4 linked regions of the Homo sapiens genome follow. The gene in region 2 interacts genetically with the main gene of each other region. Each region holds a gene or a part of one and is shown on either strand. Other genes may lie near its edges.

The links. Genes that interact genetically often act in the same process or in processes that back each other up.
Region 1: changes in NUBP1 (region 2) and LTO1 together harm fitness more than expected from each alone (negative genetic interaction), as found in Homo sapiens cells (one large-scale study listed by BioGRID).
Region 3: changes in NUBP1 (region 2) and NAA50 together harm fitness more than expected from each alone (negative genetic interaction), as found in Homo sapiens cells (one large-scale study listed by BioGRID).
Region 4: changes in NUBP1 (region 2) and COPA together harm fitness less than expected from each alone (positive genetic interaction), as found in Homo sapiens cells (one large-scale study listed by BioGRID).

The regions. Positions count from the first base shown.
Region 1 is NC_000011.10:69,665,354-69,668,853, reverse strand, and holds the end of LTO1 (protein LTO1 homolog), read left to right. Parts: intron 1-841; coding exon 842-959; intron 960-1,266; coding exon 1,267-1,335; 3' UTR 1,336-3,291; downstream 3,292-3,500. UniProt on the Homo sapiens protein: The complex LTO1:YAE1 functions as a target specific adapter that probably recruits apo-ABCE1 to the cytosolic iron-sulfur protein assembly (CIA) complex machinery. May be required for biogenesis of the large ribosomal subunit and initiation of translation.
Region 2 is NC_000016.10:10,757,342-10,760,841, reverse strand, and holds part of NUBP1 (cytosolic Fe-S cluster assembly factor NUBP1), read right to left. Parts: exon of another isoform or gene 2,970-3,500; coding exon 2,815-2,969; exon of another isoform or gene 2,565-2,814; intron 1-2,564. UniProt on the Homo sapiens protein: Component of the cytosolic iron-sulfur (Fe/S) protein assembly (CIA) machinery. Required for maturation of extramitochondrial Fe-S proteins.
Region 3 is NC_000003.12:113,736,250-113,739,749, forward strand, and holds part of NAA50 (N-alpha-acetyltransferase 50), read right to left. Parts: intron 1-3,500. UniProt on the Homo sapiens protein: N-alpha-acetyltransferase that acetylates the N-terminus of proteins that retain their initiating methionine. Has a broad substrate specificity: able to acetylate the initiator methionine of most peptides, except for those with a proline in second position.
Region 4 is NC_000001.11:160,288,094-160,291,250, forward strand, and holds the end of COPA (coatomer subunit alpha), read right to left. Parts: intron 2,594-3,157; coding exon 2,399-2,593; intron 2,124-2,398; coding exon 2,064-2,123; 3' UTR 501-2,063; downstream 1-500. UniProt on the Homo sapiens protein: The coatomer is a cytosolic protein complex that binds to dilysine motifs and reversibly associates with Golgi non-clathrin-coated vesicles, which further mediate biosynthetic protein transport from the ER, via the Golgi up to the trans Golgi network.

The DNA.
Region 1 (3,500 bases), on a different chromosome or scaffold from region 2:
GTTTCACCATATTGGTCAGGCTGGTCTCGAACTCCTGACCTCAGGTGATCCACCCTCCTCGGCCTCCCAAAGTGCTGGGATTACAGGCGTGAGCCACCGAGCCCGGCCCATGTCAGTTATTTAATCCTCTTGAAAGTCTGTGAGGTTGCTGTTACTCTCCCCATTAAAAAAAAAAAAACAAAACAGAAATTAATTTCTCACCATCTGGAGGCTGGGATGCCCCCCATTTTACAGATGAGGCCAGCAGGGTTGAAAGCAGGTAGAGAGGTGTTGGGGAGATGTCATGCCCAGGGCTGCTGTCTCCTGAGTGCACAGCCTTTCTGCAGAACCTCCTTGCCTCCCCAGCAAAGCTGTTTCCTCCCTGGGGAGGGGACAGTACTGATTTCCGCCTTTGGAGGGAGGGGTTTGCTGGTTTACCTGCAGCTGAACTTTGGAAGGCTTTGAGCACAAAGAATCCAGATCCTGGAAAATCCCCAGACCCAGAGCAGGCCTGCTCGTGCCCAGCCCCAGTCCCTCTTGCCCAGTTCTGTCTGTTTCTGCATGTGTGACCTCGAGAGTCAGCAGGGCTTCTGGCTGCCTCAGCCCCTTGGCCCCGTGGTCGGAATGGAGGCGTGTCTGTAAGCTAGGCACACACTTGCTGTCGAGGCACTGGGTATGGGCCTAAGCTCGTTGCTAGGTAAATAAATATGATTTCGTGTAATGAGAAAATAATCATCCAGCTTTTGAACGAAGGCATTCTTAGCGCACCTGCTGGGTTTCAGGAAGCCAGCAGCATAGCTGTTGTGTAAGTTGAGCCTGTTGTGTGCACATGACTGAGAGTCTGTATTTCTGTGCTTTACAGCAGAAAGATGAAGGTCTTAGAATCATTGATTGGAATGATCCAGAAATTCCCTTATGATGACCCTACTTACGATAAACTCCATGAAGACTTAGACAAGATCAGAGGAAAATTTAAACAGGTGCGTGCACTGTGTGTTTCCTCCTGCTAGGAGCACCTGATTGCGCCTTTCCCAGGCGGGGCAGCGCACTCCCGGGGCCGCTGCGGCAATGGCCTGGGGCTGCGTGCGCCGCGGAACTGTCCGTAGAGGCGCCTCATCCTTGAGTCGCAGTGCAGGAAAACTGAAGACAGTCCAGAGAAAAGGAGTTAGAACTCATTTATGGGCTGGCCACATAGACAGGAAAAGCTATAGCTAGAGATAGAGTTATCTTCTCATTTTTCAGTAAAAATGCACAAGATTAAAAATACCATCTCTTTTGTGTTTTCAGTTTTGTTCGTTACTCAATGTTCAGCCAGACTTTAAAATTAGTGCAGAAGGTTCCGGACTTTCATTTTGAGGAGGATGGATGAACAGAGACCGAACGTCGAGGAACAGATGTGTGTGTGACGTGTTTAGAAATGCGGTGAAGGGCCAGACGGTGCTGGGAAGGCAGTTGTTCATTGGGAGGGTGAGGGTTCCGGTTCGGCCGTGGGAGGGCTTCCTTCCCTGGGGTTTTCTGCCTGTGTCACCTTGGTGCCCGTCTTGGGGCCTCGCCACACATGCCCTTTGTTGGGCTGAAGCCGTCCCTGGCAGAGCCCTCGTGCATTGACTTGACAGCCTCTCCGGCAGCACAGGCCTAGCTGGTTCTGGGTTGGAGTTGGCTCTGGATAGGGTCAGTCACCAGGCCTGGACTGAAGGCAGTTATTTTTATTATTATTATTATTTGCAATGAGAGAGATGGTTGGCCCCGAATGAGGCTCATGGGAGGTTTGGACGGGTGCTGTGCCGCATGTCGAGGCCGATTGTGTGCCAGGCGGTGCGGGACGTGCCTCCCGTGTGTTATTTAATCCCTTCAGGAGCCCACAAGATGGGTGTTATTCTCATTTTACAGAGGAGGGAGGGGAGACGCGAAGGGATTGCCTGGTCTAAGGGCACCCAGCAGCAGAGCTAGGACTTCCGCCCTAAGGCTGTGCCTCACTGCCACCAGGCACAGCCGCCTCCGGAATGCACAGGCGAGTCCCTGCCCTCCCTCCCAGGCCGCACAGGTCCTGCCAAGCCTCACGGAGCACGGGGGAGTCTGTGGTGGCCAGTTTACCTGGGCATCTGGCTGAGAGGAAGAAAGGCCAACCTGATCCTGAGGGGACCCAGACATATCCTTTGCACTGTCCCTAGAGGGGCGATGAGCTTTGCAGCATTAAAAAATGGTGAAGGGGGGAAATATTTTGAACCAAAGACCAAATGTTAGGCCGCCGTTATATTTGCAGAAGCTTTGAGAACCATGCGTATAGCCTCCTGCATTCTCCCCTCTCCTAGGAGCTCTTTTGTCTCTGTCCTTACGAGGCGTCATACAGAGGCAGTGGGGTGGGCACAGATGAGCAGAGTGGATGGTTCGGTGGGTCCCCACGAGGCGAGTGGTGGTCATATGTGATGGCACGTGTTCACACACCCTCCTGTGTACCCCCCCAGGGTCACCGAAGTCCCCACACGCTGGCTCTCCACACCCCTCCTGTTCCAGAAAGCATGTCCGAAAGCAGTCCAGGAGATTATTAAGGGGTCGCCATGAATCCACTTTGGTTTTAAAACCATTCCCGAATGTCCTAGTGGATTGTGTTGTGCTGCCTAAGCTGCCGGCTGCAGGAGCCAGAGAAGTGACCCCCGCGGGAGCAGCGGCAGGTGGATCTCCACGGTGGCTCGCTTTGTTTTTGTTTTGTTTTTTCTTTTAAGACGGAGTCTCACTCTGTCGCCGAGTTTGGAGTGTATTGGCGCGATCTCGGCTCACTGTAACCTCCGCCTCCTGAATTCAAGTGATTCTCCTGCCTCAGCCTCCCTAGTAGCTGGGATTATAGGCGCCCCCCACCACGCCCAAGTAACTTTTGTATTTTTAGTAGAGATGGGGTTTTGCCTTGTTGGCCAGGCTGGTCTTGAACTCCCAGCCTGAAATGATCCACCCACGTCCACCTACCAAAGTGCTGGAATTGCAGGCATGAGCCACCACTCCCGGCCTGCTTTTTGTTTTTGAAGACAGGACTTAGGTCTCCTCCTCCCGAACTCTAAACCTGCGTGTGTGGCTGTGCACCGCTCGTTTGTAGCGTCACCTCAGGTCTGGGGAAGTCTGTGCTGGCATCTCCTCATTGTGCCTTCATCAGAGCTGGTGCCTTCGGGCCAGAAAGACTCTCGTTCTTTCTAGATGGTGGGATCAGGGGCCTTTGCTGTGTTTCCCTTGGTGGATTTTTGTGTTTTGTAAGTTGTCTATTTTGATAATGTATTATTTTTATAACTGTAAAAAAAGTAAATAGCATATTTTAAAGTGAAAGTTTGGGACCATTTATAACACAACGTCATTTATAACACGGCATCATTTATAACACAACATCCAGCCAGTTTATTTCTTCCTCCAGGGCATTTAGGATCTGGATATGAAGGAAGACATGGGCCTTAGATTTCTGCCAGCTTGTCTCCTTAACCTAGCGTAGACACAGCCACTGCGAGAGTGCTCCCATTGTGTTGGGGACTGGTCAGCTC
Region 2 (3,500 bases):
TATTTAGTACCTACTAGTGCTAAGCCCTGTTTGTTCGAGGTGCTATTTACTTCCCACACAGCCAAATAGCAAGAAATCAACCTAAAAGAAAATGACTTTTTTTTTTAGAGACAGGATCTCACTGCTGCCCAGTCTGGAGTGCAGTGGCATAATCATTGCTCACTGCAGCCTTGACCTCCTGGGCTCAGGCAATCCTCCTGCCTCAGCCTCCAGAGTAGCTGGGACTACAGGCATGTGCTACTCTGCCTGGCTAACTTTTTAATTTTTTATAGAGATGGTTGTTGCCCAGACTGGTCTTAAGCTTCTGGTGTGAAGTGATCCTCCTGCCTCGGCCTCCCAGAGTGTTAGGGTTAGAGGCGTGAGCCACTGTGCCTATCTGAAAATGACCTTTTAACGCATCTACATGCTCCATGTCCCTATACTATACTATATTAAGCCAGTGTGTGCACTGTTTTCTAGACCAGAGCTTGGCAAACCCCAGCCTGGGGGCTGAATCTGGCTGGTTTTATAAATAAAGTTCCTCCGGAACCAGCCATGCCCGTCCCTCTAGGCACCGTCTGTGGCTGCTTCATGCCACAGTGGCACGGCTAAGGGGCTGGGACAGGGACCGTGGGGTCCGCAACGCCTACTTCCTATCTGGCCCTTTACAGAAAAGTTTGCCAATCCCTGCTCTAGATAATTATAAACACAAACAACTGACTAAAAGGAAATAAGGAATACTGCCCAATGTGGACAACTTTGCATTTCCTTCTCAACTCTGAGTTTTTCCAATGTGATTACTGTGTATAAACACCGCTCAGTAGCTCCCTATTTTCCTCAGTTAATGTTATCACAGATCCCTGTACCCAAGTCCTGCTGTGGCTTGTCACTGTCAGGTGTAGTGACTCCTTAGCACCTGGAGCTTCACCACTCACGTGAGCCCGAAAGGCTCGCAGCTTTGGGCCTGTTCTTTTCCTGAGATGCCTGTTTGGCTCTTGACACTGAGGCTGGGATGCGGAGGAAGGGGCGCTCAGCTAGAAAGTCAATGGGCTGCGACTCAGTCTCTCATTTCTTTCTTTCTTTTTTTGAGACAGAGTCTTGCTCTGTCGCCCAGGCTGGAGTGCAGTGGCGCGATCTCGGCTCACTGCAACCTCTGTCTCCTGGATTCAAGCACTTCTCCCACCTCAGCCTCCCAAGTAGCTGGGATTACAGGTGCCCACCACCACGCCTGGCTAATTTTTGTATTTTTTTGGTAGAGACAGGGTTTTGCCATATTGGCCAGTCTGGTCTCGAACTCCTGACCTCAAGTAATCTGCCTGCCTCGGCCTCCCAAAGTGCTGGGATTACAGACATGAGCCAGTGTGCCCAGCACCAACCACTTTTTAAAAATGGGACAGAAAACATTCCTAAGGACAAATACACTTTCTCTCCACTGCCATCACCCGGGCCAGGCCATCCTCCCTCCTGTCCAGGGTCCCAGCTGGTGTCCTGCTCCTCCTTGCGTCCCCATGTCCCCTCTCTGCAGGATGCCAGGGTGGACATGAATCTTGCACCATTTTCTGACCCGGACACCCTTCCCATGGCCGCTGGGCCTGCCACTCCATTGGCTGTACCCTCATCCCTGTGTCCAGCACCTGTGTTCCTCAGGGAGCCACAGGGGCCACCAGGGAGAGCCAGGCCTTTTTACTGCCCTGGTGCCCGGCATGTCAGAGTCAGAGCTCAGTGAGTGCTGGATGAGGTGAGACTATGGGTCGTCCTGACTGATTCTGGCCAGTGAGATCAAATCAAACCTCCTTTGCTGGGCTTTCTTAAGTGTGGAGGAGAACGTCATGAAGAGAAGTCAGGCGTAACTGTGGAGATGGAGAAGAGCCCTCAGTTTCTCAGGCCCCTGAGATGGATAGCACCATGGTCCTGCCTGCAGTTGCTCTCTGCAGGACTTACAGAGAGGAAACTTCCTATCGCTCTCCTCTCAGCTCGGGCTCACCATGGGCCTTGGAGTACAGCCACTAGGTGACTGCTACAGAGGGTTGCTGGGTGTCACTACGGAAGAAGCGAAGGCACCCAGTGGCTTATCCCGAAATCCCTATCTGCACCCAGCTGGTTCTGTTGAAAACTGGAGAGATTTCCTAAATCATCCTGGGATGTAAACGGAAAATCCACTGTAGGCTGGGGGACCTGACACATGGACACGGCAAGGCTGACGGGGCCAGGCAGCACAGTATGAATTATAACTGCACTGGTGGTTTCCCTAGTTTCCTCAAGGAAAGTTCAAAAAGCATTCTTGACCCACTATTGTTTAATCCATGGACTAAAAAAAAACCAAATCGTTGAATGGTTGTCAGCTGCAAATGTCTAGACCAAAGATGAAGTTTTTCTTATTTTTATCTTTTGGGACAAGGCCTCACTCGCTTGCGCTGGCTGGACTGCACTGGCGTGATCATGGCTCACTGCAACCTCCTTTCCCCAGGCTCAAATGATCCTCCTACCTCAGCCTCCCAAGTAGCTGGAACTACAGGCGCGAGCCACCATGCCTGGCTAATTTTAAAATATTTTTTGTAGAGATGGGGTTTTGCTATGTTTTTCAGGCTGGTCCCGAACTCGTGGGCTCAAGTGATCCTCCCATCTCAGCCTCCCAAAGTCCTGGGATTACAGGTGTGAATCACTGTGCTGGCTGAAGTTTTTAACACGAGGTTTCTGCAGACCCACATCAGATGCAGCTGCGGAACACACACTGGGAAGAGCCTTGGTGAGACCAGAGTATCAGAGCCAGGTAGGAAAGAAATCTCACAGTGTGGAGCACAGTTTGGACCCAGCTCCAGCTGGCAGCTCGCTCACCTGGGGAGTGGTGATGATCACTGCTCCATCGATGTGTGCTGTGGCCAGGTACCGGACGACCGAGAGGTGTTCATCCGACGTCCCAGGTGGGGTGTCCACAATGAGGTAGTCGACCTCTCCCCAGTCCACATCTCGGAGGAACTGCTTGATCATGCCTAGAAAGAGGAATCCACAGGGGATGCTTACTTTTCCTTTCTTTTCTGTACTTTCAACTCCCTCTTTTTTTTTTAAAGGATGGGGTCTTGCTATGTTGCCCAGGTTGGCTCTTAACTCTGAGGCTCAAGCAATCCTCCCACCTCAGCCTCCCAAGTAACTAGGACTATAAGTGCGTGCCACTGTGCCCAGCTCACGGAGAAGCATGATCTGATCTTTTTGTGCCTTTGGTCTATGCTGTAAGTCAGTGGCTCTCAACTGGGAGTGAATTGCAATGTCTGGAGACATTTTGGGTTGTCACAAATAGAGTAGGGGGTGCTACTGGCATCTTGTGGGTAAAGGCCAGGGACACTGTTTAACACCCTATGGTGTAGAACACGGTCTACTCCTCCCCCCAACAAAGACTTATCTGGCTCAAAATATCAATAGTGCTGAGGCTAAAGCTTGCCCTGATAACACTTTCACATTATTACCTTAAGTCTCAGTACCAGATCAACCTCCTGTTGATCTCACCTCTCTGACCCAAATAAGCC
Region 3 (3,500 bases), on a different chromosome or scaffold from region 2:
AAACCCCAAGGCATTTTCATACCAGAATTTTTAGACTAAGGAAAAGTGGGACAGACTGTGATGTAAATAAGAAACCGCTACTGCCAAAGTGCCTACAGATACTTTATATTAAGTCCTTAAATGTGAAAAATGCAGTTACTTATCTGCCTCTTTATAGACTCCCATCGGCTATTAATTTGTGCCACAAGATTATAATTTCACGTACATAACTTCTGGGTTAGACTATGCTAGTAAGAAAACTTTACCCTTGGCCTATAAATCAAGCAGTGTGATGAGTTAATGCACATTAAATTTTGGCACAGCGATGTCAGATATTATGGACGCAAATGTTTTTAGCTATTCAACCCATTGCCAATTATGCTCATAATTGTAAAAACATTTAGTAGCAATATTCTGAAAGGCCACAAGATGGGGATATGACTCCACAAAAGTGGGTCTCGGTAAAAAGTGGTTTTTTTAAGAAGGATGGTTTCACTATATTGCCCAGGGGCCTTGAACTGCTGGGCTTAAGTGATCTTCCAGCCTCAGCCTCCTGAGCTATTGGGACAACAGGCACCACATCACCACACCAGGCTCAAAGTGTGACTTTTTAAGTTATATAACAAAAAGTGAAAATGAAGTATAGAGAAAGCTTAAAGCCTGTTTATACTTTTAGTGAGTATTAAGAGTACCTTGGCACATAATTTTAACTGCCTGTTCATTTGTTGTGCAGAGTATTTGATCTGGACTGGATCTACTCCCCCTTCATTTTACAGATGATGAAACTAAACCCCCAAGAGACAAATGTACCTATAGTTATACAGACAGTTATGGATAAAGCCAGAATCAAGCCTATGTCTCTTAATTTCCATTGTAGCACAAGATCAGTCACAACAATTTCTGTCAAAGGAATGACCTTTACCCCTCAAGGTCACTTTTTAAAAAAAGGGAGAGAGATCTATTGGTAAACATTTTTCTGACGTATACTGATAAAGGTGCATTTGCATAAAACTCAAAGCATCTTTTAGTTAGGATCAAATGGTCCTTTGATTTAAAAATGTCAAGGGGTTAGAAGGGAGGTAATTTTTTCTTTGCTAGCAGTAATGTTTCTAAACTCTTACCCTGTAGTAAATTACATGAAAGAGTGATTCCTCTGGAAAATAAATTCCTTCAACCTGAAAGTAAGCCCATTCAGAATTTATCACACAGTTTCAACACTAACTGCTCATGAGGTCTTAACCTGTCACCCACTGAGATTTCTACCTCATATGAACTATATTACCGTTTCTGTCCTTACAAGGCACCTCTGCCCTGCTACAAACATTTATTCTTGTATCTTACCTCTTCTATAAAACTATAAGACTTAGGGCAGGATCTCAGATTATTTCAGGGAATTACTAAATTACTTTTAGTAAGTTCCATCTTACCTAGATTTTACAGCAGGGTTTCTCAATCTCAACATTAGCATTTGGGGCTACATTATTCTTTGTTGTAAAGGGCCTTTCTGGTACACTGCAGAATACTCAGCAGCATCCCTAGATTTTACCCACTGGGTGCCAGAACTCTCCTACATCCTGTTAGGACAACCAAAAGTGTCTTCAGACATTACCAATAATTGGGAAGAGGGGGTGGGGGGTTGCCCTAGTTGGCAGTTACTGATCTAGAGGTTTGGCAGTAATTTTAAAAGTAAAAGGGGCTGGGCATGGTAGCTCAGGCCTGTAATCCCAGCATTTTGGGAAGCCAAAGTGGGCAGATCCTTTGAGTCCAGGAGTTCGAGACCAGCCTGGGCAACATGGCAAAACCCTGACTCTATTTCTTTGAAAAAAGCGAAGGTGGGGTGGATCAGCTCTCCAAACTGTATGCCTGCAAGTATCAGAGGTATAAAAATCTCAGCAATTATATGGTCGGTTACTAATGCTAAATACACACATGGGCACAATCTGCTCAAGAATATAACCTAAAAAGAATCAAATTATTCTGTGGAAAATTGTTTCCACTGTCATCCACATATTCAGTTAAGAAAGCTCCTTGCCAGCTTATGGCTTTTCTTTCACTGCCATCTAAATGTTAATGTTTTTATTTCCAAATCTCTGAATCCAAGCCAATATTTCTGACTGGTTACTGGTGATCTCTACAAGAATCTCAAATTCAACACATCCAAAAGAGACAGCATCACTTTCCATAAGAAATTAGAACTACCTCTACAATCTATGAAGAGCCCACCGTTCATCCAATAGAGAAATTTAGTTTTCTATGTATTCTTTATGTCCTATTTTAATCTCTGTTAATTCTGCTTCCCCAGATACCTACAAAATAGAACTGGCACACAAGCTAGAATCTTTGGCCATTCCTATTCAGATTCAAGCCATTCCCTTAAAAGACAACCAAGGCCCAGAGGTTGAAACACCTTTATTAGTGACCCTACTGCTAGCTATCATTTGTGGTACATAAAACTAAAACTTGGTTGCTTTTAGTTCAATGCTTTTTGCATTATAGTAAGTTTCCTTTAAAATAAGTAACAAATTATATACACTAGAAGCAGGGGAACCCAAACATACCTTTAAATATACCCTAATTTTCTGGAAAAAGAAGTGTTTGAAGTGCTCCTAAGTACAAAATATTTTCCTTGCTTATCCTTGTTTACCAAGTTTCACCTCTAAAAATTTTTATTTCAAATGACCTGGGCCCTAATGTCTCACCCCTACTCTCTAAAGAATATCATCTTTGTTTTACAATTTGAAGTTAAGGCAATCATCATCCCAATTAATAACTGGGTAAGTTATAAACAACTTACGTCACAAAATGACCAGTAAAAATGGTATATGTCCAAACTTCACTAAATAATCATCAAATCTTTAAAAAAGGAAATGCCGTTTATCACCTAATCAGCAAAGTAAAAGTAGAGTTAAAGCAAAATGTGAATATTTACTCAAAGACAACTTGTAAGGAAGCTATTAGTTATTTCTATCATTTTAATGTATTTAAATGTATTGAACGCATCGCAAAGAAAATTTATACCATTCATGGCTGAAATGTCAGCCACAATATGTTTTCCTGAGGTTTTTCCACGTGCCCTTCCCTTTCGTTAGCCCTTGGAAAGAGAAGGACATTCTCATACATTGCTGACAGAATAAATTGCTACTATCTTTTTGGAGGTCAACTGGCAAGAAACACCAGAGCTTTAAAAATGTCAGTACCTTTTGATCCAGAAAATTCATTCTTAGGAAATTATCCAAAAGAAGTAATTAAGGATGTGTGTCAGGTAGTTTTATGAACAAGCATTCACTACAGCACTATAGGGGACTGAGGTAAGAAGCCTCTGGAGTTGGAGAACAAGTTTCTGACAGAGGCAGAATATAGCTTGCACTAGCTCAAGAAAGATGAATACTTCCAATTATCTCTTCCCTACCCTTTCACAGCAGACCAAGTGACTGAATGGCAACACTTTAACCAAAAAACCAGATTCGCCTCAAAATCCTTCAACACAGAGGTATAAACAGCCATAAACTTTCTGTTGGCCC
Region 4 (3,157 bases), on a different chromosome or scaffold from region 2:
CGGCTAATATGTACATTTTTTTTTTTTTTGAGACGAAGTCTCGCTCTTGTACCCCAGGGTGGAGTGCAATGGCACAATCTCATTAGTAGTATGTACTCTGTTGAGAAGGCAGCCTTAGTTTAGGGATGCTGTTTAAAAAAGCAACTCTTAAGATAAAGCTAAAAAATACAACGTATAGTATGAAGAGAAGTAAAAAACAAAGTGAAGCTCCCTAATATATTGATACGAGAAAATACCAAAAATGTTAAATGAAAAAACAAAGGTACAAAATTGTTAAATAGTGTGGTTTCATTTGTGTATAAAAGGAGATAGAGAATGGCATAGTGATATCAGCATGTGCATGTATATGTGTGTGTGTGTATATATATATATATATAAAATTTCTGGAAGGATGTAAGAAAGCTGGTAACAGTGGTTACCTGTTTAGGGGAAGGTGATAGGAACTGGGTGGCTGATGAAAGGGTGGAAAGATTTGTCACAGAATAGCTTTTTATATTTACTGATTTTTCAACTATATGCATTTATTATTTATTGAAAACATGAATTTAACACGCAAAAAAGTACTTATTTTAATCGAAGGCACAGTAATGTCACTCTACCCAATTATTCTTAGCATATGACAAGCAAAATATTGTATTGTTAATGTAATCATTGTATCATTGTAATATATATAAAGTACTATTCTTTTATCTGTATATTACATGTAAAATATCTAGAACAGTGACAGTCACATGGCAGGTGCTCAATAAATATTGCTATAATTAGCAAAAGATAAAAGGCTGCAATCAAAAACAGAATAAGGGAGCTACTTGCTTTCTATCATTTTCACAGCAGTTTAGGTCCTCATATATACCCTATGAAAAACATGTGCTTCTTTTTTTCTTTCTTTTTTTTTGAGATGGAGTCTCACTCTGTCGCCCAGGCTGGAGTGCGGTGGCGCGATCTCAGCTTACTGCAACCTCCGCCTCCCGGGTTCAAGCAATCCTCTGCCTCAGCCTCCAGAGTAGCTGGGATTACAGGCACCCACCACCATGCCCGGCTAGCTTTTTTTTTTTTTTTCCAATAGTGGATGTTTATTTTGTAATTAAAAATTATTACTGGAAGGAAGATATGTACTTTGGTGGGGTGCCTGCATGGGTGAACAAGAACATGAGAGTGTCCAAGAAATAAATGGCCAAGTCAAGAAGCTCTCATAGAGATTTATTTAGTGTGAGAAATATGAGAACAATAGTTGTAAAGAACAAATCAATAACCCGCAGTGTGCATTTTGGAAAACCAAATAACTTCTTCAAATTTCTGAGTACACAGAGGGTACCTGCCTTGAAATTTAAATGTCTAAGGAAAATGGGAGATGATTAAGAGTTGGTGTGGCCTAGTCACACCAAAATGTATTTATTACATCCTGCTCCTTTCTAGTTGACAGGAAAGAAAGCTGCTGTGGGGAAAGGAGGGATAAATACTGAAGGGATTTACTAAACAAATGTCCATCACAGAGTTTTCCTTTTTTTTTTTTTTGAGACAGAGTCTTGCTCTGTCACCCAGGCTGGAATGAAGTGGTATGATCTCAGTTGAATGCAACCTCCACCTCCTAGGTTCAAGCGATTCTCATGCCTCAGCCTCCTGAGCAGCTGGGACTATAGGCGCATGCTACCATGCCAGGCTAATTTTTATATTTTTATTAGAGACGGGGTGTTGCCATGTTGGCCAGGCAGGTCTCGAACTCCTGGCCTCAGATGATCTGCCCACCGTAGCCTCCCAAAGTGCTGGGATTACAGGTATGAGCCACTCCACCCAGCCCAGAGTTTTCATTTGTTCCTTAAAATAATTAAGCTGGAAAGGCAAGGACAATTATGAGCACAACTGTAGTCAAGTTGAGAAGACCTCAAAAAAGTCAAGTTTAGACCTTCGGATTTTCCATAGAAGAGAAAAAGATACTAGGTTTTAGGGTACAGAGAGCCAGATCTGAAGAGTAGCTGCAGGGGGAAGGTGCTGTTAGAAGGAGGATATAGACACATTCTCTGGGGGGAACATATGGTGACTGACCCATGCACACAAAGGGGGCCTTAGCGAAACTGCAGAGGACTGATCCTTAAACCAATCACATCTTTGCCAATCTCTGTCACCTGTGGAAAAACAAACAAAGGAACAAGTTAGAGATTTGTAAGATTGAGAACCCTAGAAAATGTATTCCCTATACCCCTCAATGGGCACAGTAGACAGGTATTGGGGTGTTCATCACTGACTGGCCAAGAGCAGTGGGGAGATGCTCTAGCTTTCTCCAGTGTCACTGCCTCAGGGAGCAGGGGACAAGCACAAGAAGAAAAAAAGGACCACCATGTTTCTTTCTTTTTCCCCTTCGCTCAATATCCTAGATATATTTATTGAGGACAGTACTTACTGTGGTGACCCTGCAGATTTGACCTTTGAACTCAGGGGAATAGCAGGCCCCACTGAGTGGACACTTTTCTACTGGCTTTCCACGGTAGATGGGCCGATATGATGCAGCACAAATGTCAAAGGGGTTGTGCATGTCATAATTGAGCTGGTAGGCATCTGTGGGATTCTTCTCACAGGCAGACAGGATTTTTCGGGTCTAGGGGAAGGAAGGAGTATTTAGGAGGACAGAAGGCTGCAGACAACACCTCAAAGGATCCCAACACCATGGTTTGGTAGTTCCGTTGATGTGAGACACAACTGTACTGCGTGAAAAGAGGTCCCAACCTCTGTACTGGATGTATGTGAAGGGTTAACAATCACCATTCCTATTGTATCAAACTTTCCCCTTCTCAATACAAAAGTGGCTCCATAATCTAGACCCACATTCCTCCACCAACTCTAGAGATTATCAGGGTCAGGTCCTAGAAAGGGTTAAAACAGACTTCCATCACCCAAAAAGAATGCATTTGGAGGACACAAGTAATGAGATGTGTATGTGAAGCTTTGTGGTGGTTGTGATGGGATATCTGGAGCTTAAGGACAGGACTGGGGTTACTTTCAGCTGCAGTGGAGCTATTCTAGGTTGCACGGCACTCTTAGACGAGTGCCATGTCTCAATAAACTATTAATTTTCCAGGAACAAAGGAAACACCAAGTCAGGAAGTAAACAGAGGGTAGCATTCTGTTGGCTTTTTGTTGAATGTTGTTATTTATTGCTTTG